Regions from separate parts of the Homo sapiens genome. Here all the other regions are reported to be linked to region 4. The links are microRNA targets in miRTarBase. Many come from high-throughput screens and were not tested one by one. Region 4 holds a microRNA gene; each other region holds the end of a gene's coding sequence.

Evidence for each region. Region 4 holds the annotated microRNA hsa-miR-133b (UUUGGUCCCCUUCAACCAGCUA, at 1,447-1,468, opposite strand). A microRNA usually pairs through its seed, bases 2 to 8, with sites in the 3' UTR of a target mRNA and lowers its output. Matches are read on the target gene's strand: a 7mer-m8 pairs with bases 2 to 8, a 7mer-A1 pairs with bases 2 to 7 and ends in A, and an 8mer does both.
Region 1: miRTarBase lists CPNE3 as a target of hsa-miR-133b. Seed matches in the 3' UTR shown: 8mer at 1,756-1,763 and 7mer-A1 at 3,915-3,921.
Region 2: miRTarBase lists SEPTIN6 as a target of hsa-miR-133b. The part of its 3' UTR that is shown has no 7-base or 8-base seed match.
Region 3: the mRNA of CDC42 is a reported target of hsa-miR-133b. The part of its 3' UTR that is shown has no 7-base or 8-base seed match.
Region 5: the mRNA of GLI3 is a reported target of hsa-miR-133b. Seed matches in the 3' UTR shown: 7mer-m8 at 2,390-2,396.
Region 6: the mRNA of HAPLN1 is a reported target of hsa-miR-133b. Seed matches in the 3' UTR shown: 7mer-A1 at 2,666-2,672 and 7mer-m8 at 1,898-1,904.

Annotation. Positions count from the first base shown.
Region 1 is chr8:86,557,536-86,561,577 of GRCh38, forward strand. It overlaps CPNE3 (copine 3), which reads left to right. Exons shown (of 17, transcript NM_003909.5): 17 at 753-3,963. The coding sequence ends at 875. Among named protein-coding and RNA genes, the nearest start is that of CPNE3, 45 kb to the left of the region's middle.
Region 2 is chrX:119,622,196-119,626,237 of GRCh38, forward strand. It overlaps SEPTIN6 (septin 6), which reads right to left. Exons shown (of 11, transcript NM_145799.4): 10 at 3,140-3,184. The coding sequence ends at 3,181. Among named protein-coding and RNA genes, the nearest start is that of NKRF, 18 kb to the left of the region's middle.
Region 3 is chr1:22,091,250-22,094,249 of GRCh38, reverse strand. It overlaps CDC42 (cell division cycle 42), which reads right to left. Exons shown (of 6, transcript NM_001791.4): 6 at 1-2,822. The coding sequence ends at 2,733. Among named protein-coding and RNA genes, the nearest start is that of CDC42, 40 kb to the right of the region's middle.
Region 4 is chr6:52,146,414-52,150,455 of GRCh38, reverse strand. It overlaps MIR133B (microRNA 133b), which reads right to left and starts at 1,533; the gene lies at 1,415-1,533. It overlaps LINCMD1 (long intergenic non-protein coding RNA, muscle differentiation 1), which reads left to right. Exons shown (of 3, transcript NR_131248.1): 2 at 2,989-3,088; 3 at 3,519-3,642.
Region 5 is chr7:41,961,001-41,965,042 of GRCh38, reverse strand. It overlaps GLI3 (GLI family zinc finger 3), which reads left to right. Exons shown (of 15, transcript NM_000168.6): 15 at 1-4,042. The coding sequence ends at 713. Among named protein-coding and RNA genes, the nearest start is that of INHBA, 260 kb to the right of the region's middle.
Region 6 is chr5:83,638,259-83,642,300 of GRCh38, forward strand. HAPLN1 (hyaluronan and proteoglycan link protein 1) reads right to left here. Exons shown (of 5, transcript NM_001884.4): 5 at 1-3,527. The coding sequence ends at 3,238. Among named protein-coding and RNA genes, the nearest start is that of VCAN-AS1, 78 kb to the left of the region's middle.

The DNA.
Region 1 (4,042 bases), not on the chromosome of region 4:
AAAGCAGTTGTTAAACTCTTCTAAAGTGGCTATATCATTTAACATTCCCACCAGCAATGGAAGGGGAGGAAGTGGAGTGTTGTGATTATAAAGTAGTAATGTTAGGTAGGGATCTTTGTGGTGTTGAGGCAGTTCTGTATCTCAATTGTGGTGGTGGTTAAACAGATCTATCCAGATGACAAAATTGCATCGAATTATACAGAAACAAACACACACACATACACACACACACACACACAAATGAGTAATGTAAAACTAGAAATCAGAGTAAGTTCTGTGAACTGTATCAGTGTCAGCTGCCTGGTTTTGGTTTTGATACTGTACTATAGTTATGCAAGATGTTACCTTTGGAGGAATCTGGGTGAAGGGTGCATGGTACCTTTCTTTACTGTTTTTGCAACTTCCTATGAATCTATAAATGTTGTAAAAAAAAGTAAAAAAAAATTAATACCAAGTAAGTGAAAGAACCACATTTAAAAGTTATAAAACAACAACAACAAAATCATCAAATGTTAGAATGCTGGCACCGAAAAAGGACTTGACAAATGTTAGCAGGGATAGTAATAGCAATCATAAGTAACATTGGCTAGTTAACTCATTCCATATTTCATGGGCGGTTCCTAAGAAAAGGTACAGGCCTATGAATTAGAATTGCTTCATTTTAGTGGCTGCTGAAGTATCCCTAGTCTTTTATGAAAAAGCCAGGAAAATTCAGTTGCTAATAAAGTCACTTTTATTTTGTTTTTCACAAGGCTCCAAAAGAAGCACTTGCTCAGTGTGTCTTGGCAGAGATTCCCCAGCAGGTGGTGGGCTACTTCAATACATACAAACTCCTTCCTCCCAAGAACCCAGCCACGAAACAACAGAAGCAGTGACCACTTCAACAGAATTCTTTTGTGTTATGTGGAGCAATGCCATCTCTCACCCCAAATCGTGTATCTGTCATTCTACGTACTTTTTACCCCCAGCATTTATGATGTAAATCTCTTTCTCTATGGATTATATCTGTTTAAAGCATTCTTTCTAGGTTATTTTGGGGGGACAGTGCCAAGTCCATCTTTGCCCAGTCAATTCAGTGATTGATAGCAATTTACATTAATTGCAGTAAAGCTCTTTGGATTAGAAATTAGTGTGGGGAAAGCTTATTCTGTTGTTGTTTTTGTTTACTTTCATATGATGAAAATGCTGTGTTTAAGTGTTTGTCAATAGGAAGAATGGAAAACTGTTGGGATGATGTGGTTTGCAGGTTGCTGTGCCTGATTCACAGTGTATGTTGTATAAGCCAATGTCCATACCTGATTATGAGAGCTTCTTAAATTATATGATATCAAATTTGTTCCTGTAACTCTGTATACAGTGCTTTTCTGCAAGGTAAAAATAACCTGTCTATGCATCTGATTTTTGCTACAGTTTAGACACTGTGGTTTACAAAACAGCATGCACTCAACTTGGGACTTTATGAAAAGTACTGAATGAGCAGGAAAAGGCACATACTCAGTTTTTTAAATGTACAATCAACAAGTAAAAATAACCTCATGTAAGTAAGCCATTTTTATTTGCCTTTCTAGATATTTTATTTTATTGTGGAAAACTGTAAACATGGTCAGATTTGGCTTTTTTTTTCATTAACTGAGCAAGACTTTCAGGATATTGTAGATGCACAGATGGTAGGTTGTCCTGAATTCTACATTATTAGATTACTTTAATTGAGATTTGTTAAAACGGTTAGGACTGTTTTGTCCAGGAAAGATAAGAGGACCAAACATATAAGGTGAAATTCAGAATTCCGTTTCCTTCTAACTAATGAAAAACTGCTTACTAAAAAAAAATTTTATACTTTCCTTGCTAAGGTCCCATATATTGATTTGTACAGATCCACTTAGTCATTTTCTCCTTTTTTTAAGAACCATTTTCATCTGATTTTTAAACTCACGATACCAGTTATCTGTTAATCAAAATTGCATTTTACAATTTAATAATGTGATATTTCCTATGTCTACAGCATACCTTATTAGGTATAAAACCTACTGCAACTTAGAAAAAGGAAAGAAAAAAGAAAACTTTTCCAACTGCTGCATTAAGATAGGGTGGATTTTATGTGCTTTTTTTTTTTAAGAGTTGAATTTCTTTTCCTGACTTTTACCTTTTACAGCGTATTACTTAGTGAACATTACATTTTCAGAATAGATCCTAATATTTTATTGAGGGCCTATGTGCTAAAAACTATGCATATCTATATATTGGCCAATTATCTTTAATAATTTACCTTTTGAAATTGCATGTTTATCATATATCCTTAAGTGGACACATACAGTGCCATGTTGATGTGCCTCTCAGTTTTATTGAAAAGCTGCCCCACAGCCCATGTCTCTTGTTCTCTGCAATGCCTCAAGGGAGTGAGCTCTCAACCACAGATAGCTGTGGCTTCTCAGAAGCAGCTCATTGCCAAGGCCAGGCTGAGAGGGGACCTGCTTGCTGTGGTGGTTGCCTAGCCCAGATGAGCATTTACCTACCACCTTCCCACTTGGCTAGCTGTCCTTTGGATATGTGCTGTTAACTGGGGAAGGCATCTAACTAGTAGCCTGCTACTCCATAGTATGGCTCAATAGATGACACATCATTTTGACATTATCAATAGGAGAAAAGAAAACTAACCCTTCTTCTGATTGTTTGGAGCCATAGTTGTCTCAGATGTTCTAATTCTCTTTGTATGCTTGGAAACAGCATAGATATGTTGCTGTGGTTTTCAGAATTTTCTCTTTTAATCACAAGAAGCCTTTTAAAAAATGACTTACACATATTCTCAATGTACAGTAAAACAGACAGAAGTGAGCTTATCTGTTTGATGCTGTGGCAGGGTCCCAGTCACTGGGCATATCCTCCTTCTCCTTAACCAGCTCCACAGCAGCCCCTGAGTCACCTGCACAAGGTGCTTGGGAACTGCTGGTTATGAGCATTCCTGGTTTTCTTCAGCCAAATAACAGGTAATCACTGTCAATTGGATTTGGTCTTCATTATTTTATATTCTGATTTTATCAGAATTATTCTATTTTAAAATTGTTTTAAAATTTAAAACATTTAATTCATGATCATGTTCATCAGTAGATGCTATTATTCATAAGAACTGTGATTCCAGCAAACTAGGGTAATTGGTGCCTTTTTACAGTTTTGAATAAAAGCATTTACAATTTCTAAATTATCAGTTTTCACAGTTTCAGCACTCAACCTCATCATACGCTGATTTAATATTGTTTTACATTAAAATAGTCCTTTTCCCTGTTGTGCCACCATTCATTTAAGTGCTGTTTGTTCTTAAAATGCATTTAAAGAAAAATTACCCATATTGACTTTCACACCTCATATAATCAGATCTATTACAAATATATATCGGAGTGACGGTGCCCAGGATAGATGTAATATTTCTTACAGATGCTGGCACAGAGGAAATAATATACCAGCTAATCTAGTCACCTAACCTTGTGGTTAGAATTGCAATTTTAAGACCAGAAAAATTTGAAGTCTGATCAGAGATTTACAACTGTTCATTATAGTGGTGCCTTAGGCAATCTTTCCAAAGTAAATTCAGGGCCCCATTGCTACTTATGCCATATTTGGACATACTTTTTTTTTCTTCAATTTTGTAAACTTCCTGGAAAGCTGTCTTCACTAAGTATCCCCTAGTCTCTATATATGTGGTTAGTAGTCATGGAAATGACACATAAAGTACGCCAGAAGTTTGATGGAACGTGTTAGAAACTGTTTTGTGCTTTTATGGATGTCATACTTGACAATACATGTGTAAGTTACTAATATATGAATTGATGCTAAATATATCTTACATTTGAATTCCTTTTGGATAAAGTTATTTCTTGATGTGACAGAGTAGTGTGTTTTCATTTTTATTCTTTACATGTGACCAAAACAATAGAAAAGTTAAAAATAAAATATAGTGTTTTAGGTGGCCTTTGACTTCATATTTTACTGAATTAAACAATTTGGGGGATATTATTTTATGGGATTTATTTGTTTAAAAGATATTGAG
Region 2 (4,042 bases), not on the chromosome of region 4:
TTTTGATGTGTGTATACTATCCATATACTGTGCACTCCTAAGGACCAATAATGATTGAGGTAGAGTATCTGCAACGATGTAGGGGGTCACAAAGGAATCGCTTTTACAAATGCAGAGAGCTATAAGTAGTGCCTCAAGCAATTTCAAAATGTGGAGGCACAGTAAGCCTCACTCTGCCTGCATTCTAGGTGGCCTTCGTGATCCACCCCTTGAATGAGGGCTTTGAGGAGGGGGCGGGTTGCCTTTGCTGCTTTCAGATCCTGGGGAGCCAAAGCCTCCCCTGACTCGTTGGTCTGAAATTGCTTTCGTGGTCTGCCAGGGAGAATCCTGCCAGGAAGAGCCAACCTACTTGGGGTTGGGGTTGGCTGTTCCAGCTGTTTACCAATTGCCTCTCACTTGTAAAGTGTAGCTTTAATTATAGTTTTGCCAGAATTCATTTTAGGAATGGCCACTAACAATGATTTACTTGGGGAAACCTGTAAGCAACTGTGTCAAGCCACGTGCAGTGAAACCTGAATTAACTGAAATCTCATTAACTAGAATACATATTTCCTGCTCACCTCATTAAAAATGGGAGAACAAAGAACATAACACATGAACTGAGTTCCTATTACATGTCAGACACTTCACTACGCACTGGAACTACATACAGTGCAAAGAATGGACAGGCATTCTAGGAACTGACTGTCTTCCTAAATGGAAATCTGCTGTTTAATTCCAGTCAACTAGCAGGGGCTCCAAGACTTGCTGTTAAGCCAGACAGTAAATCAAGTCACTGTTCTTTTAAGATTGTTTCCTTTGGCCCGGTTTCATGGGCCTTATGTTGCAGAAACCTCTATGGACTTCCTCTTCAGGATTTGCTTCCAAGCAGGATGTTTTGCCAGCTGCCCCGAGTCCCCAGTGCAATAGCTGCGGCAATCAGTTTGGTGACTAACAGCAGGCTCTCCATTTAAATCATAAACTACATGGGTGAGTGGGGAAAAGTCTTCTCTATATTTTATATTCCCTGATCCAAACAAACCAAATGTAAAAGGGCATTTATGAGACAACCGGGATGTTTCAAACACTGACTAGACATTTCATGTTAATGAATTATTGTTCATTTTGTAGGTGTGATAATGGTGGGGTTGTGGTTATGTTTTTTTAAAGAATCATTATCTCTTGGAAATATATACTAAAGTATTTACAGATAAAATGATATAGTTTTGCTTTATAATAATTCAGCAGGTCTGTAGTAATTGATGAAACAAGATTAGGCATATGTTTATGGTTGCCTGGGGGCTGAACTGTATTATCCTCTTATTTTGCTCATGTTTGAAAGTTTCCACGGTAAAGTTTAAAAAAAATAATAATAACCCTTCATCGGGCGCGGTGGCTCACGCCTGTAATCTCAGCACTTTGGGAGGCCAAGGTAGGCAGATCACCTGAGGTCAGGAGTTTGAGACCAGCCTGGGCCAACGTGGTGAAACCCGGTCTCTGCTAAAAATACAAAAATTAGCCAGGAATGGTGGCACATGCCTATAATCCCAGCTACTTGGGAGGCTGAGGCATGAGAATTGCTTGAACCCAGGAGGCGGAGGTTGCAGGGAGCTGAGGTTGTGCCACTGCACTCCAGCCTCGGTGACAGAGTGAGACTCCGTCTCAAAAAAAGAAACAAACAAACAAAAAAAACCCTAATTATGTTAAATTAAAAATGTTTGTATTTCCTTTCCATCCACTACCTGAGTCTAGTAGAGGAGATAGAAGGTCCTTAATCCCTGCTTTCAGTCTCCCTATAAACTATGTGAAACTTTATAAACTTCTATTAACACAACATCTAGCACTCAGGAATCCTTACCTGCTGATCTCCTTATAAGAGGTTTTCATGAAGCCAGTACTTGTAGGATTAAATGTAAGGAATTCTCTATAATTTCTAAGATCTCTTCATTTTCCTCCGCTTTTATTATGGGTTTTTTTTTTTTGTTTTTTTTTTTGTTTGTTTGTTTGTTTGTTTTTTTGAGACGGAGTTTCGCTCTTATTGCCCAGGCTGGAGTGCAAAGGTGCGATCTCGGCTCACTGCAACCTCCGCCTCCCAGGTTCAAGCAATTCTCCTGCCTCAGCCTCCCGAGTAGCTGGGATTACAGGCATGCACCACCACGCCCGGCTAATTTTGTATTTTTAGTAGAGACAGGATTTCTCCATGTTGGTCAGGCTGGTCTCGAACTCCCGACCTCAGGTGATCCGCCCGCCTCGGCCTCCCAAAGTGCTAAGATTACAGGCGTGAGCCACTGCTCTCAGCCTTATTATGGTTTTGAGGGGTACAGTCAAAGGAAATTTGAGGACTTGAACCCCTCAGATATGAAACTGCCACCAGCGGGAAACAGAGAAGTGAGTTTCCATTGACTCTGGACATTCTCAAACCTGATGCAGGGGGATGGGAGAGGGTTGATGCTGACTGTGACATTGCAGGACGGAGCTTGTGAAACCCAGTTTCTCTCATCACCACGGTTTCATTAATTTTGAAAATAATGGTTATAGCTCCTTTTGTTTTTGAGATGGAGTTTCGCTCTTGTTGCCCAGGCTAGAGTACAATGGTGCAATCTCGGCTCACTGCAACCTCCGCCTCCCAGGTTCAAGCGATTCTCCTGTGTCAGCCTCCAGAGTAGCTGGGATTACAGGCCTGTGCCACCATGTCCGGCTAATTTTTTGTATTTTTAGTAGAGATGGAGCTTCACCGTGTTAGCCAGGATGGTCTCAATCTTCTGACCTCAGGTGATCTGCCCTCCTCGGCCTACCAAAGTGCTGGGATTACAGGTCTGTGAGCCACTGCGTCCGGCCCGATTATGGCTCTTTAAGAAAAAAACTTCCCACACTGAAACCTCAAATACTGATCACAGGATCCACCTGTGTTACCCAGCTGTTCTAGCAGCAAAAGTCTGAAAACGACCCCTCACTTTAATCAGGCAGGCAGGCAGGCATTCCACATGTACACCTGAAACCACACCAGACTATTTCTGCATATTATAAGTCACGAGAGAAAACCAGCTAGACCAATGAAGCAGCTTCTTCTACGATTAGATGCTTGTGTTGGGGGTGCGGGATTGGGGGAGATATGTTCTAGAAGCCACTGCCAGTTCTATTTAGAGTTAATCAAGCTTACCAGGACCCTGGGTCTCATGCAGCATGCAGCAAACAGCAGAGTTAACTGTAAAACAGTAAGAGCTGATGAAGATGGAGTGAGCATGAGGGGAAATCAAATATTATGACTTGACACAAACAATGAAGGGTTAGAGGTCAAAGGTGATTAGGAGTAGCAGGAAGGGGAAGTGGGAAGGGTGGACTGGTAGGAACCCCTGAAACACTGATACTCTTTTTTTTTTTTTTTTGAGTCAGGGTCTCTCTCTGTTGCCCAGACTGGAGTGCAGTGGCGCAATCATGGCTCACTGCAGCCTCAACCTCCCGGGTTCAAGCAGTTCTCCCACCTCAGTCTCCTGAGTAGCTGGGATTATAGGCAAGTGCCACCAGGCCCAGCTAATGTTTATTTATTTATTTTTTTTGTAGAGACAAAGGTCTCACTATGTTGCCCAGGCTGATCTCAAACTCCTGGACTCAAGCAATCCTTCGCCTTGGCCTCCCAAAGTATTGGGATTACAAGCATGAGCCACCACGGCTGGCCAGTACTTTCTTAATCTCTTTAGGGGCAGCTAAAGGAAATTCTGAATATGTGACTCTTAGATCCAACCACCATCTCTCAAGAAGAAATACTACTACCACCATTTCTGCCCTCAAAACTCACTACCGTGACTATGGGAGGAGGGTAGCACAGGTCTAACGGTGGCTCTTCCAGAAGTTAACAAATTGCTCATGAAATTACATAAGAAGCCAAGATTCAGGGCCACTTCTGCATCTGGAAGTACAGAAGAAGACAGGTCATTCTGTTAGGCCCTTATTGCTAATATAAGGTGCCACATGCCAGCAGGGTTTTCACCCATTTCAGAATTGGAAAGGGGCACTGTCACCAACCCCAAATATTCCTGAAGAGTAGAGAGGGGTATCTCCCTGT
Region 3 (3,000 bases), not on the chromosome of region 4:
ATATTAACATCGTATTAAATACTATAAATTCTGACACAAACTAAGCCTGTAAGGACTATTTTCAATAACCCTTTCCAGCCTCTAAATCATACTCCCTGGAGAATATCACTCACCTTCTAAGCCACGACTATAAGCAAGTTTGTTACGTCAAATAGAAAACAATATTTAAATGGAAAACCTAAGCTGCATCCACTTGCTACCCAAGTTCTTCTGACATGCAGAAATCAATCTGAAAATATTTAAGAAAACATTAGCTTCAATCAATCCCCATCATCCTTGTTCTTCTGATACACGGATAATTCGTTGACACAACTGTATGACCTGCTTTATTTCACTTACTCATTTATAAAATAATATACCCATCCAATGACTACTTCTAGAGCCATATCATGTCAAGCATTGCTTTAGGACAAAGATATAGCAATAGTCAAGGACCTATACGCCCCTGACTACACTAAGGATACATATGTCCCTGCTTTCCAGGGTATCACATGATCCAGGTATCTCTCCCTAGTATAGTCAACAAGGAATAAATAAGATGCATTTCTTGGTTAGAACTGTTAAAGCTTACATCTGCCTCTTCCTAACCCCTTCTCAACCAACCCAGCTTAATTCTAGCACAGTATGCAAATCATGCCAAACATGACTCCATGCAGAGAACTATCAAAATGAGGCCACAGTGTACCAACCTTAACTGATTTTAAGGGTTCTTAGTTTCTAAGATTCTCATGCAGATCAGTATAATGTCCTAAAGGTAAATAAACCTTTCTTGCTACCTAAAGAAAATGTATCCCATATTCAGATTCGCAGCACAGAACCTGTATTCTGATAGTAGTAGTTTGAGATAACCAACTAGGTGTGGTGATTCCCAAACTTGGCTACATTTTAGAAATGCCTGGAAAACTTAAAAATCACATTGTTCAAGCTGCACTCCAGTTGGAGAACCACTGATGCAGAAAACTTGGGGGAAAATGAGCTGCTTTTCAATGATCTATGGATTAAAGGTACACTGACATTTCCTTCCACCATGAGCAGTGAGCTTCCTGAACACTGCTTCACTAAGAATTATTATGGACCTACTTGGTATTTAAGGGAAGGGTCAAACTTAGAGGAGAAAGCACAAACCTGAACATATAGAGGGCTAAATATTATCTCAAACTAAAATGCCAGAAAATAAAAATAATAAAGCTTTAAAATTTTATCCCAAAGTTTGTTAGAAATTGATGTTATCAAGAGTCAAATTCCCACTCCTCAATATCTGAAAAGTAAGAGACGGAGGGAAAATAACAACCCTCAGGCTGGCTTGTGAAGGGTTTTTGTTTGTTTAATACATCTGAAAAGAATGCATATACAAAGAATTGAGACATGAGAAAGCATTGGTTCAACACTAATGCATCTACAAGAATTAGGTTTGGGAAGGTGGGAAAGATTACCTCAACATTTTTAAAAATTGGAAACTGCAACCAAAATAAGCTGAAAAAATCCCTATTAACACTTAAGAAGAGTCTGCATTAAGAGTCTTTCCATGATTTTTATTAAACTAGAGAGCCTCACCTGGCTGCTCTAGGGTTCCTCATATGCAAAACAGAAATAAGGGGATTCCCCTGACTGGTCCCCATGTTGTTAAGTGTTCTCCCCACCCCCACCCTACCCCCAGCTTCTTAATGAAGCAGGCCTCCATCCTCCTAACTTGAGAGGATGTGAATCATTCCACAGATGTCTGTCTTCTAGCACCACCCCTCGTATTTCCTCTACATAACAGGTCTTCAGCTGCATTCTAGGAACACCATATACTACTGAGCTGCAAATCTATGCTAAGCATATAAGACAATGACTGAAAGGGAAAAAAATTTTTTTAATTACAAACTCAATTCATTTGGTGCATTTCAAAGGTGCAATACTTTTCTTCATTTATCAGTGAAAGAAGTTAGAAATTAACTTCCCAAAAAAATCAGCAAATGGCAAACAAATGTCCTTGAAAGTCACAGTCACATATAGTGCGTCCTAGAAAAGAGGAGGGGCAAGATGGGCTCCACCCACTTTCATGAGTTTCATCAAATACTGGATCTACTCAAGGGTGGAGAGAAAAGGCAACTTTCAAAAAGGAGTATGTTATTAAATGAGGCATTTACTATACTCCTTCCTAAGAGCACCAGATGGGGAACATGTTTTCTAAACTAGATCTAGGAAGTGGAATGTGGAATCAATCCGTCCTCCTCCCCTTAAGGGCTAACCACTGGTTAATGAATTAAAAAAACAAGACTAAAAAACAAACCCCACACACACTCCCCCCCAAAAAAAAGAGGAGGGAAAAAAACAAAACAAAACACTAAGATGTCCCAGATTACTCTCCAGAGTGGAACCAGGGAGCAGCTTCAACAATTCCAATTAGTCTGTTACAGAGTCATCCACAAGCATGCCTTGCTTTTAAACAACAAAAAAAAAAAAAAAAAAAACACACACACACAAAAATTTTTTTTTTGAAACAACAAAAAAAAATAGTACTAATCACTTTTCTGACAATACAATTACTCAAAATTAACTAGTACTGGGAGGGGGAAGGGGGGGGCCATACCTATGGGCCTTGTCTCACACGAGTGCATGTGGGTAGGTGCAGGGCATTTGTCATTATTGCAAAAACGAATTTTAATTTTTAATCTTTAGTTTGATTTAAACATTGCTTTTAGTATGATGCCGACACCAGCTGTGCAGAAAGGGCTCTGGAGAGATGTTCATAGCAGCACACACCTGCGGCTCTTCTTCGGTTCTGGAGGCTCCAGGGCAGCCAATATTGCTTCGTCAAATACATTCTTTAGGCCTTTCTGAAAAGGGGTAGAAAGAAAAAATGGGCGGTCTGATTTTCAGTATAATAAAGTTGGAGTTCAAATTTAAAACATTCAAACCCCCAAGAGTTGGCAAAGAAAGAAACATTAAAAACAACCCTGAATCTCAACACAATAATCTCACTTCACCAAGATTTGTCCAGGGCACTGGAAGGAT
Region 4 (4,042 bases):
AAAAACAAAAACAAAACAACAACAACAAAAAACAAAACCCTACAGTGAGCAATGAGCCTTTATGTATTTTTTGAGTTCTTCTCCTATTTTTTTTTTAATTTGGCTCTTTCCTTCTACATACAAGTGCCTGTGGACACAGCATTGTCCTTGTGCTGTTGCCATTTACAGCAGTAAAACAACAGCTACTATTTCTTAAGGGCTTATATTTGGCTCTTTATTAACACTGTCTGTTTTAAGCCTTACGGTAACTGAGGTTGGTATCATTGTCCCCATTTTACAGATGAGTAAACTAAGGCTTGTGCAATGTTAATTGAGCTGCGGAGAGGATATATCACAGCTAATAAATTAGAGGGGCAGCATTCAACCCCAGGTCTTCCTGAATGCAAAGATTTGTGCTAGTAAGCTCTGTGTTCTCCTCTGAGGTCACTGTGGTGGGCTCTAGGCACTTATGCTACCCCATTTGTGTCAGAATACAGCATGTGAACACACATGTCTATAGAATTTTAAACCCAAATATTTACTTATTACTGTCTAAGTTCCAGACACACACCATAAAAGATACAAATCTTAAAAGATAAACTGGAAGGACAGGTCAGAATTCTCCCTTAGTAAAAGGTAGCGATTATGAGAACTTAGCTCATTACAGCCTCCATCTCCTGGACTTAAGTGATCTTCCTGCCTCAGCCTCCCAAGTAGCTAGGACTATAGGTGTGCACTACCGCATTCAGCTAATTAAAACAAAAAAAATTTTTTTTTGGTAGAAACAGCATCTTGCTATGTTGACCAGGCTGATCTGGAACTCCTGGCCTCAAGCAATCCCCTGTCTTAGCCACCCCAAATGCTGAGATTTTAGGCATAAGCCACTGTGCCTGGTGTGACAGGTACTATTATCCCTATTCTACAGATCAGGGAACTGAGAAATGATTGCTTAGTGAATAGATATCTTGGGCTGAATAGATCAATAGAGACTTGATGATACATAATGTGCTAGGCATATTTGGTGGGATAGGTAAGAATTATGCCTTGGAACTAGCCATGCTATAACTTGCAATTCAATTGGATCACACCATATATACATGTCTAATTTCTTTCCTTAGACTGTTAGCCCCTAGTGAGCAGGAGCCCTGTCTTCTATGTCTCATGCTCTTCCCCTGGCTGGCTTAGGGTTGGCACAAACTCCATCCTCAAACTCTTTCTTGACTGTGTGTCTGTCAAAAGCATGTAAGTGGCTGCAGCTGTGAGTGCAAAGGCACAGAACAGTGTGTGTTGAGCATTAAAATCTTGCTCACTTTTGACTCCAGGACTCCTCTTCTCTTCCTTCCTGGGAGCATAAGAATATGGTGAAAAAACCAGAATTGTTTTCTCAAGGAAAGTTTTAGTAGGTAATTTCAGTTGCAGTTGAATCTCTTCTGTTTCTCCAAGGACTGGGCATTGCCAGCCCTGCTGTAGCTGGTTGAAGGGGACCAAACCTCTCAGGAAGACGGACTTGGTTCCGTTTGACCAGCCAGAGCAGGGGGCATCTTTCTTCTGAGGTGACTGCAGCCTCTAGTGTGCAGGTATCTTGGTGTGTCTCAAGCATCATTTGTCTAAGCCTGTAATGCAAAAAGAAGCAGCATTAGCATCTGTCAAATGCCAGGAGCTTGCCTTGTCCAGAATGTCCTCTTACATGATTTGTACATACATCTCATACAATTTGTACATACAAATCATACATAATTTGTATTTCATGTTGCATGACTTCAATTTATTTTTTCTTTAATCTTTAATCTTTTTTCAAATAGAAACATCATGAAGATCAAATATGCTATAGAATTATAGAATATGAAAAATGACAGTATGCCATAATGCTTCCTCTTCCCATTTTCCGAAAGAAATGTAACATTTTGGCATATATTCTTTGAATGCTTAACATTTTAATTTCTTTAAATTATGTTTTTAATTCAAGTATGATATATTTATAAAAGAATATTTATAATATATAAGTGATGGTACATAATGGTAAAACCAATACCCATGAACAACGATCTACTTTTTTTTGTTGTTACTTTTTTGAGATGGAGTCTCACTCTGTCACCCAGGCTGGAGTGCAGTGGCGCTATCTCAGCTCACTGCAACCTCTGCCTCCTGTTTCAAGTGATTCTCCTGCCTCAAACTCCTGAGTAGCTGGAATTACAGACACCTGCCACCATGTCCCGCTATTTTTGTATTTTGAGTAGAAATGGGGTTTTGCCATGTTGGCCAGGCTGGTCTCAAACCCCTGACCTCAGGTGATCCACCCATCTCAGCCTCTCAAAGTGCTGGGATTTTAGCCGTGAGCCATCACGCCTGGCCCAACGATCTACCTTTTAAAAAGAACTATTTTTTACTGTTTTATACTATTGCTTTCTTTGTACTGAATGCTTTTTCCAATTTATTTCTTTATGTTTCCCCCCGGAGGTAACAATCACACTGAATTTATTTTTTCTTATGATTTTGATATTTTTCTTTATAGTTTTTACCATTTATGCATATATTTCTAAACAATATATATGCATATTTTAGTATATAATGGCATCATATCATAGGTATTGTTTTGTGACTTGATATTTCATTTAAAATGATATTTGCAAGATTCATCCATATTGATGTGGTAGCAGCAGTTTATTAATTTTCATTGCTTTATGGTTTTCTACTGTGTGAATATACTATAATTTATTTATTCTCCCAGCCATAGACATTGAGGTTGTTTGGTTTAACAAGGGGATAGCATTGACTAAACTGTTTCTCAAAGGAGGTGGAAAAATCTTTGATTCTTGCAGATTTTAAAGGAGAACTCTGGATTTGTATGTTGGCCTTGTAAAAGAATGGCAACACTTACCAGCCCGAAACATCTGGAAGTAGGACCCAGAAATTAGTGCTATAACCTGCCCTTTGGGTGATTCCGATGCAGCTCAAGTTTGAGAACCACTGAACTAATAGGAGTACCCACTGGTTTCTCTCTGTTTCTAGGGAGGTGTGAGCTGTGGGAGAGAGCTGACTAAGAAGAAGAAACTCCCCAGAAAGGTGGCCTGCCAGTCTTCACGATGTATGGGAGCAGGTGGGAAAAGAGGTAGGCAGAAAGGATAGTTTGAATGATGCTAGAAAATTGTCCTTCTCCCTGGGGGCTAGGCATTGCAGCCCTTTTATTTTCTCTTCCTGATGAAGACAAGTAAAACTAAGTGGAATGCATGTGGCCTTGGAGTCACACTTATCTGGGTTCAAATCCTACCAATGCTTTCCTGGCTCTTTTGCTTCTAGGAAGTTACATAACATCTTTTAACCTGAGTTTCTACATCTGCACAGCAGGAGAAGGTTGTATCTACTCTGCCTGCTTGTTGCGAGGCTTAATGACAAGGAAGGAAAGGTGCACTGTGTCCCTAGTGGGCACCATGGACAGTGTCAGGGGTGTGGGAAAGTCCTAGAGACAATCCTGACTGCTTTGGAGGCCAAGAAGTTCACTCTCAACTCCAGCCTGTCCTTTACATGTTTCCCTTCCTCAGCTGCAAGTGTTTGCACTTCATCATTGAAATTGTTGAAACTGCTGATCAGGAAACACAGAATGAGTTTAACCAGCGATGCCAACTTCTGCAAGATGGACTCCAGCTTGGGAGCTCTGTATGGAATAAATAAGATATCCCAGACATCAAAGCACTCAATAAGGCACTGTAGAAATGGCAACAAGGTAAAAGCCCACAATGATGGTGGTGGTGAGAAAGCAGGGCACCACAGAACATGGCTTGGTTCTAGAGTGGTCTGTGCAGGGTTACGTTGAAGCTTCTGTCTTGGCTTGTCCTCTCCTCCTTGGTGTGCATTCTCCTGGCCCTGTAGTCCTGGCATCTTACCTTCTGCCTCCTCCTGCCAGTGACATAGCTGTCTTGAAGCTGCTGCCTGCCAGCTCTTCCTCTGGCTAACCTCTGCTCCTTCTCTAGCTCCTCCTGGGGAGCAAGGAAGCAGGCAGTTGTGGGGGCAGAGGGCAGCCCATTGGTCTGAAATCAGGACTGAAAAGCACATGTGTCCAGCTTGC
Region 5 (4,042 bases), not on the chromosome of region 4:
TGCTTGGGCAGATTAGTGCTACCTCACACATCAACATCTACCAAGGGCCAGAGAGCTGCCTGCCAGGGGCTCACGGCATGGGCAGCCAGCCGTCAAGCTTGGCAGTTGTCAGGGGCTACCAGCCATGTGCCAGCTTTGGGGGCAGCAGGCGCCAGGCTATGCCGAGGGACAGCCTTGCTCTGCAGTCAGGACAGCTCAGTGACACAAGTCAGACCTGCAGGGTGAATGGTATCAAGATGGAGATGAAAGGGCAGCCCCATCCGCTGTGCTCTAATCTGCAGAATTACTCTGGTCAGTTCTATGACCAAACCGTGGGCTTCAGTCAGCAAGACACGAAAGCTGGTTCATTCTCTATTTCAGACGCCAGCTGCCTGCTACAGGGGACCAGCGCCAAAAACTCTGAGTTACTTTCCCCAGGTGCTAATCAGGTGACAAGCACAGTGGACAGCCTCGACAGCCATGACCTGGAAGGGGTACAGATTGACTTCGATGCCATCATAGACGATGGGGACCACTCCAGCCTGATGTCGGGGGCCCTGAGCCCAAGTATCATTCAGAACCTTTCCCATAGCTCCTCCCGCCTCACCACGCCTCGGGCGTCCCTCCCATTCCCAGCGCTGTCCATGAGCACCACCAACATGGCTATCGGGGACATGAGTTCTTTGCTGACCTCCCTAGCGGAAGAAAGCAAATTCCTTGCAGTTATGCAATAGGCTTTAGGAAAAAAAGACTGCAACCAACGGAAATCAATAGGAGTTGAAGAGATTAAACTGACTTTGTTTTGGCTGTTTTTTTAGTTCTGTATGTATTTTAGCAATCTCATCTCACCTAACTGAGATGTGTTTCAATTATATTCCTTTTATGGAAAAGGACTCTGAAAAACCCTAAAGTATTCTAGGGAGAAACTGTCTTCCATTTCAGTTTTGAATCAGTATTGTTACACTCAAACCACCCTCTTTTTAAAAAAAAAAAAAAAAACTGTAAGCCCCGCCCCCTTTTTAGTAAACCGATGTAAATTTGTGATGTGCATATTCTTCTTTCTTTTAGAAGAGCAGTCAAATTAAAGGATTTGACATGTTTTGCTGTTGCTCAAAGGAAATAGGAGTTGGTGTGCTTGTGACCAAGGGGTTACACTTCCAGCTTTTAAAATTCTCCTTTACATGTGCTCAGTGTTTTGTTTTGTGTTTTGGTTTCTGTTTTTTATTTTAATTCCCACATTGGGCACAAGAATCAGAATATGGATAGCTAGTTTAAGAAACTTTTGTGGGTGCACTGTAGCATAGATGACAGAATATTGATGTTCCCCCCATCTCCAATTCAGTTCAGGGCATTCCACAGTTAAACAGAAATGGGAACGTGGGGCTCTTATAAATGAAATGGGCGCTCACAGTTTTGGTTTTCAGCTCTTCATGTCTGTAAGTGTGCTTTGGGGGAGGCTATGTCTGTATGGTCGATTCTCAGTTATCACATTTGCCTCTCCTCCCACTACCTTCATGAACATTCAGTGCTGTTTCGCACTGCAGTTAGAGAGAAGGGACGGACAGTTGGTGACACTCAGCCACATTGCTACTTTTATCTGTTCTGGTAAGAAGTTAGATAGATGGTAGATTGAAGCAATTGGGTAGAATTAGTTGGGGGAATATTTATGAGTTGCTGTGTTTGTTGATTAGTTCCATCTCTTTCCCATTTTAACTGAGAATTGATTATATATAGCTCTAAGTATATAGGTATTTAAACAACCCCACAAGCGGCTGTATCAGTAACATTTATTAATTCCACTATAGTGAGGGAGGATTTCCATTCTAAATACCTTATTTTGAGGGATTTATAAAACTTAGTTGTAAAAGAGAAAGCCCACATAGTGGGAATAAATTGCTTCAGCCATTTTTAGTATTTGAGAGCACTAGGGAAGATGTTTAGTAGCTGTGTGGATGCCTTTTTTCACACCCTGTCTATTGAATGCTGCATCCATTCACGAAGTTAAATGTTACATGCAGTTAGTCCTTAATGTGGACTGGATCTGTACTTTTGTTTTGGATTAAAACATTTAAAGATTTTTGAAGTGCAGCTACTCCCCACGTGCATTTGATACACATAAAAGTCATACTGTGTGTGCACAAAGAGTACATGGATTTTCCAGCATATTGCTTTAAAAAATTATATAAACTGTTAAAATATTAACACCTCAGGCTACCTGCTGTATTCTGTCCCATTGACCCCTGGAATTGGATTTACTGCAAGTGATTGATAATTCAATTATGTGGCTTTTCCCCTTTAATCTTGCCATTTAAATTACAGTAGAAAGACAAAATCAAGTAAAATAAAGTGTTAGATAATAGAAAGAGTGTTAAGACCAGCCCACTTTTCTCATGTTTATGTTCTTTCATTTGGACCAAGAATCTCCGCATGGAGGTTGATTTGCCACTGGGGACTTTGGCTAAGACTATTAGGTTTGCTTTCAACTAGATGTTCCTGAGACAAGCAGAGGGACACTGCAATTCCCCTTCCATGCCTGCTGTTCTCCCCCATGTAAGTCTTCTTTGAAATTAACGGATGTGTCTCCTTTGGAACAGCCCCATAACAAAAGAGAACTACTGATCTGAGCATAGGAAAGTAGAGGCTCTACCACTTTTCAGTTGAAAAAGCAAGACTTTCTCTGTGTTTCTGAAACAAGGCATAATGTTGTCACAGAATCAGAGATCCAGTCTCACTTTTCCACAAATCTCCAAATCTCCAGTCTTATCTTGTGTGCTCTAATGGTTTGGTTCAATCCCTTTCCAACTCTTGTTTTCAAAGCATGGGGCCTGAGTGTTCTCCACTCCTCCTAAGAAAGGAGCTTGGGTGGAAGGGACCATGCTGACCTCCTCCATCAGAGGGCTCTTCCAGTAGTATTCTCGGATGCAACCTCCATTTCTCAGTTACCATTATTTCCTGTATCAGCTTTGTCCTTCCTGGAGGGATGCACAGTGATCCGGCCCACCACTGTTGTTGTCTTGTGCTTCTGCTCTTTCCTATGGTTTCAGGTTATTTTCTGGGTTTCCCCTATTCTTCTTTTATTTCTTTTTTTTTTTATATTTGCTTTCCTTTCTACTGCTTTTAGATTTGCAGGAGATGCAAGTTTCAGCTCAATGTTTGGCTTCTCTCAATATGGAAATTTCAGAAGGACAGAGGAGAGGAGGGAGGAAGAAGAAAGTATACTCCTCCAGAATTTCAGTGATCTGTTGTGGCAGTCCAGTGGAAGGAAGGTCTTTTGAGGTCACTTAGAAGCATCTTTTTGGGACATCCTTTTGGGATCTCTGTAGGCTAGGCATCTCATATCTTGAGACTCACCCCCAGCCTCCAAGCCTCTCTCCATTTCTCTAACCTATGCATTTTAGAGCGAGAGGACCGCCTCACTAGTGTCACCATCCTGCCTTTTCTAAAACATGCAGGCTCACACATTCTACTCCTGCTTAATGTCTGTGTTAAACGTTTTCTAACCATTTTTGTTTTATTTTTCTGAAAAAGTTAACCCCTCCCAACTCCTCACACATTGGCTCTTCCTCTTGAGCCACAAAGTTTTGATTCTTGCGATGTATGTGCCTTATTTTATGTTAATCTTGTCAATGAGAGGGACCAGTTGGTGTTGCCCAATCAGCACTCCAAGGCTGTGTGTGCACCAGCCAGAGAGCGCACGGTGGTAGCAGAGTCGAGGCTGTCTTGTATCCTGGTTTCATGTGTTGTTTTGAACTGATAGGAGGATGTTCTCTTCTGACAAGTTACCCTTGTGTATCCTGCAGACATGTAAAATAAAATACAAGTTCATTTTTTTCACCTTTTTTAGATTTTTTTAAAAAATAAAATGTGTAATCCTTTTTTTAAAAGAAACACATGTAAATACATTTAAGTATTGTAGGCATAGCGTTCAGATGTGACTGGCCCAGGCGTTCCTCGGACAAGCCTGCATTCCCCGTGATCACGCCCACCTCAAGCCCAGGGGCTGCAGCCCAGCCACAGATGAACTCTACCTTTGCTTTCAGAACCACTTAGTCCTTTTGTAACA
Region 6 (4,042 bases), not on the chromosome of region 4:
CATTTTTTTTTTGGTAATACAGATTGATTCTTCTCCTCAAAGTTATACTTGATATCTATTAAATGCCTTTAAATATTGGTTTTCTTTTAATCAGGTGGCTTAATAACTTTTGTATTTTTCATCTCTTTCGTTGTACATCCATTGCCGCTCTGGCAGTAGTGAGCTACGATACAGTTAACTTCTTAACAAAACGATGTCAGTTATCCGTTGATATTTCTTAATGCATCCTATGCTAAAAACTGATAAGTGATTCCCTTTTAATCCTCCCCTCCTTAGTGGTCAGCTACTCCATGAGACCACCATATTCTTTGGAGTACTAAAATCAAGAAACCCAGAATGGCTGCCAGCAACCAAATTGTAATCTCCTTTGAGTCTACTTCTAATTGCCAAAATAAAAAGTGACTATATTGTTGCATAAAATAACACTTTGACAGGTACCAGCCCCCTTTCCATGAGAGAAAGTTTAAATTTACAAACGCCATATTTGGCTAAAAATTACTGTGACACAATATGACAGCACTCACTTAAAGATGGCTTCCAGTGTTAATGTGACCAACTTATTTTCGTTCTTATGTTGTCTTTTTATTTGAATTGCTTCTTTTTGTTTGGGTTTTCCAATGTAGATGTCTCAGTGAAATGTGCAGATATACTTTGTTCCTTATATGGTCACCAGTGTTAATTATGGACAAATACATTAAAACAAGGGTTCCTGGCCCAGCCTCCCATCTAATCTCTTTGATACTCTTGGAATCTAAGTCTGAGGAGCGATTTCTGAATTAGCCAGTGTTGTACCAACTTTCTGTTAGGAATTGTATTAGAATAACCTTTCTTTTTCAGACCTGCTCAGTGAGACATCTTGGGGAATGAAGTAGGAAAATAGACATTTGGTGGAAAAACAGCAAAATGAGAACATTAAAAAGACTCATTCAAGTATGAGTATAAAGGGCATGGAAATTCTGGTCCTTTGAGCAAAATGAGAAGAAAAAATTCTGCTCAGCAGTATTCACTGTGTTAAGATTTTTTGTTTTTTACACGAATGGAAAAATGATGTGTAAGTGGTATAGATTTTAATCAGCTAACAGTCACTCCAGAGATTTTGATCAGCACCAATTCCTATAGTAGTAAGTATTTAAAAGTTAAGAAATACTACTACATTTAACATTATAAAGTAGAGTTCTGGACATAACTGAAAATTAGATGTTTGCTTCAATAGAAATTTGTTCCCACTTGTATTTTCAACAAAATTATCGGAACATACATAATAATAGTTCAAGTATGGACTTCTTTCAATGAGCTAGCCCCCATATTTGAGGTGTTAAAGTTGTTATTTGGGAGATAGTCCCCTCTTTAAATAATATATCATCTCATCCTAGACCATTTAGGTATCTTCCTTAATTTAGAAGTGCAAGTTCTATTTATACCACCAGTGTTTGAGTTTAAACTTTACAAACTCTTTGGATTTATAGTTTTGTACAGTTTGCATATCCAACCTAACTTAAAAATGTGCATACATAACATTGTCATCTTTTAATATTAAAGCATCTGAAAATTTTCAGATATGTTTTTGATGAAAGAAAGGACCTACTTTTATTACAATATTTTGTCTGAATAATATATGATTATAGTTATGGTTTCATGGACTTCCAATTGTTCTATACCTTCCACACACAGAACTCTATAGAGTAAATTTATTAGAATTATTACAGAGCTTTAAATGCAACCACAATCCATTCAGGAAACAGATTTATTTACTCATGTTCATGGGAGGAAAATCTACATAAAAACATTCATGAAAGCATACCGGCTATGTCATACTTGGATTATTATAGTAAATCCCATTTATTAGAACTCATTGTGAAACAATGGGAAACCATGAAATGTAATTTGAATACAAATATTGGTCCCTGTGGGGTCTCAGCAGTCATAAAAATATAGGAAAACAGAGCTTTATTTAAGAAGATTGGAGCTGCTAATGTGGAAAATTGTGTTTGGAAGCTGGACTTAACCTTTTATTTAAAGCCCTGAAGATTTTAGTGTAAACTCTTTGATGACAGCTTCAGCATTTAATTTAAGCCTAATGATGACCAGCAAGGAAAGTGACATCATTAACCACATTTTCTGTTTGGGATAAGGTTTAGAACTACACTGTTGACTTTTCCCCCCAAACACAGGCACTGGTTGGGTTCTCTCGTGTATATACAAATAGGAATAATAAGAATTTTGAAAGTTGCATCTTTGTTTCTGCATTAGGGATTCCTTTTATAATGTAATTGATTTTCATATAATGTAAATATGAAATATTAAATCAGTTTAAAGTTATTTTTATAGGACAATAACATTTCATAGGCTAACAGAAAATCAAGCTGCTAAATTTTACAATTTTTCTGTCCAGCAGTTTATCTATATAACTGCCCTGAGTAGATGCTAAATGCTGCTTAGCAAATGGCCCTTAGAATTTAAATACAACTCGGTAAAGCTACTCAAAAGATAAAACAATTCCTCTTAGACATGTGTAATTTTAATTATAAGAAGGTAGAAGTCTTTTTCATTGGTTAAATATTATCTGCTTATTTATGTGTCATGCTTCATATAAATGGGATTATTGAGGAGTTTTAACTGTGCTTGTTACTATGGATTGGAATCCATATGAATTTTTTTTTTTTTTTTTGGTCAGAAAGGCAGGATTTTAAAGAGTAAAATATTCTGCCTATTAGAGACTTGAAATATTAACTTTTAGAAAGGTATAGATTGTTCCCTTGTGAAACTGAGTTTTGTATAACCTCTCAGTTTATGTAAAGAAGCCTGTATTTCAAATGTGTTGCTCTAATTTGTTTATTGTAGTGCATTTCAAAATTGTACAAATGTGTAAAGTTTGTGCTTGTGGAACCTGCTGCTCTGAGTAGCTTTACTTTCCTTAATTTAATCCTAGCAATTCTTAAGCTATTGCATGCCCCGTTCATGAAAGGATACTTTGTTGGGATGATACAGCTTAAACAGTTTGGCTCTAAGTCTCCTTACATAGAGCTTCCCTTAAATTTATATTAATTTATAATATATATTGAATGATAGCTTTACAAAAAACAAATCAATGAATTGATCTTTATGAAAATGACTCTTTACAGTAAGTAAAAAAGGGTTATCACAGTTTTGGTAACTTGCATGAGTTCATATTGGAAAAAAAAAACACCTTTCACATGTTCTTAATGACTTTAAAACTGATGCGCTCTAAGGGCACATTCAGTTGTATGCTCTGAAGCAGTAGACACCATACAGCTTATGCTTTTTATCTGGGAAACCCACGAAGCGCACTGCAGCCTCAGTAGGACTGCAGCGCCTTCTTGGCCTAGAGATGGGGTAGCGGACGCTGCCATCCGCCAACCAGCCCGCATCACAGCGGTCATATCCGAGAATTTTCCAGGCAGCAAATATCTGGCCCACTTTTGCAATCTGAGCACCATCATTGAGACAAGCTTGCACCGCTTCATCATAGGTCAGTTTGGTGGGGTGGATCAGATAGTAAAAACGGCCTGTAGAGAAAAGGAGACAGAGTCAATGGGCTGGTCTTCAATTGAGCCACACAGAGATAGAAAGAGCCAAAAACGGAAGTGTTTCTCAATGAAGGGGGATATAGAGCAATGTTTGTAAAATTTTGGGAACATAGAAATGTCAATTAAATATAGTGTCCCTACGTCACTTCCATTAAATTAGTTTTTTCCCTTGCCCCTTAATATGTGTCCAGACATGCCCCTTTTATAGCTTTAAAAAGAAAAGGGAAATGGCAGATGCAGTTTCTGTTAGCTAATTAGTGACTAAAAGAGCCCTTCTGTGGCACTAGAGAAGACAGAATTCCATGTTAAAAGCAAGGGCTATTTAAATTCTAGCTGTACAAGACTGAACCCCAGCACAAGTTTCTGGAGAGGCAAAATTTGAATGTGAAAGGATCAAAACACATTCCTGACATAAAAGTCCATTTAAAAAAAAATCAAAAGCCCTCAAGTCCTTTTCATTACAGGTATCAATTAGACATTATTCTCATTCAAAG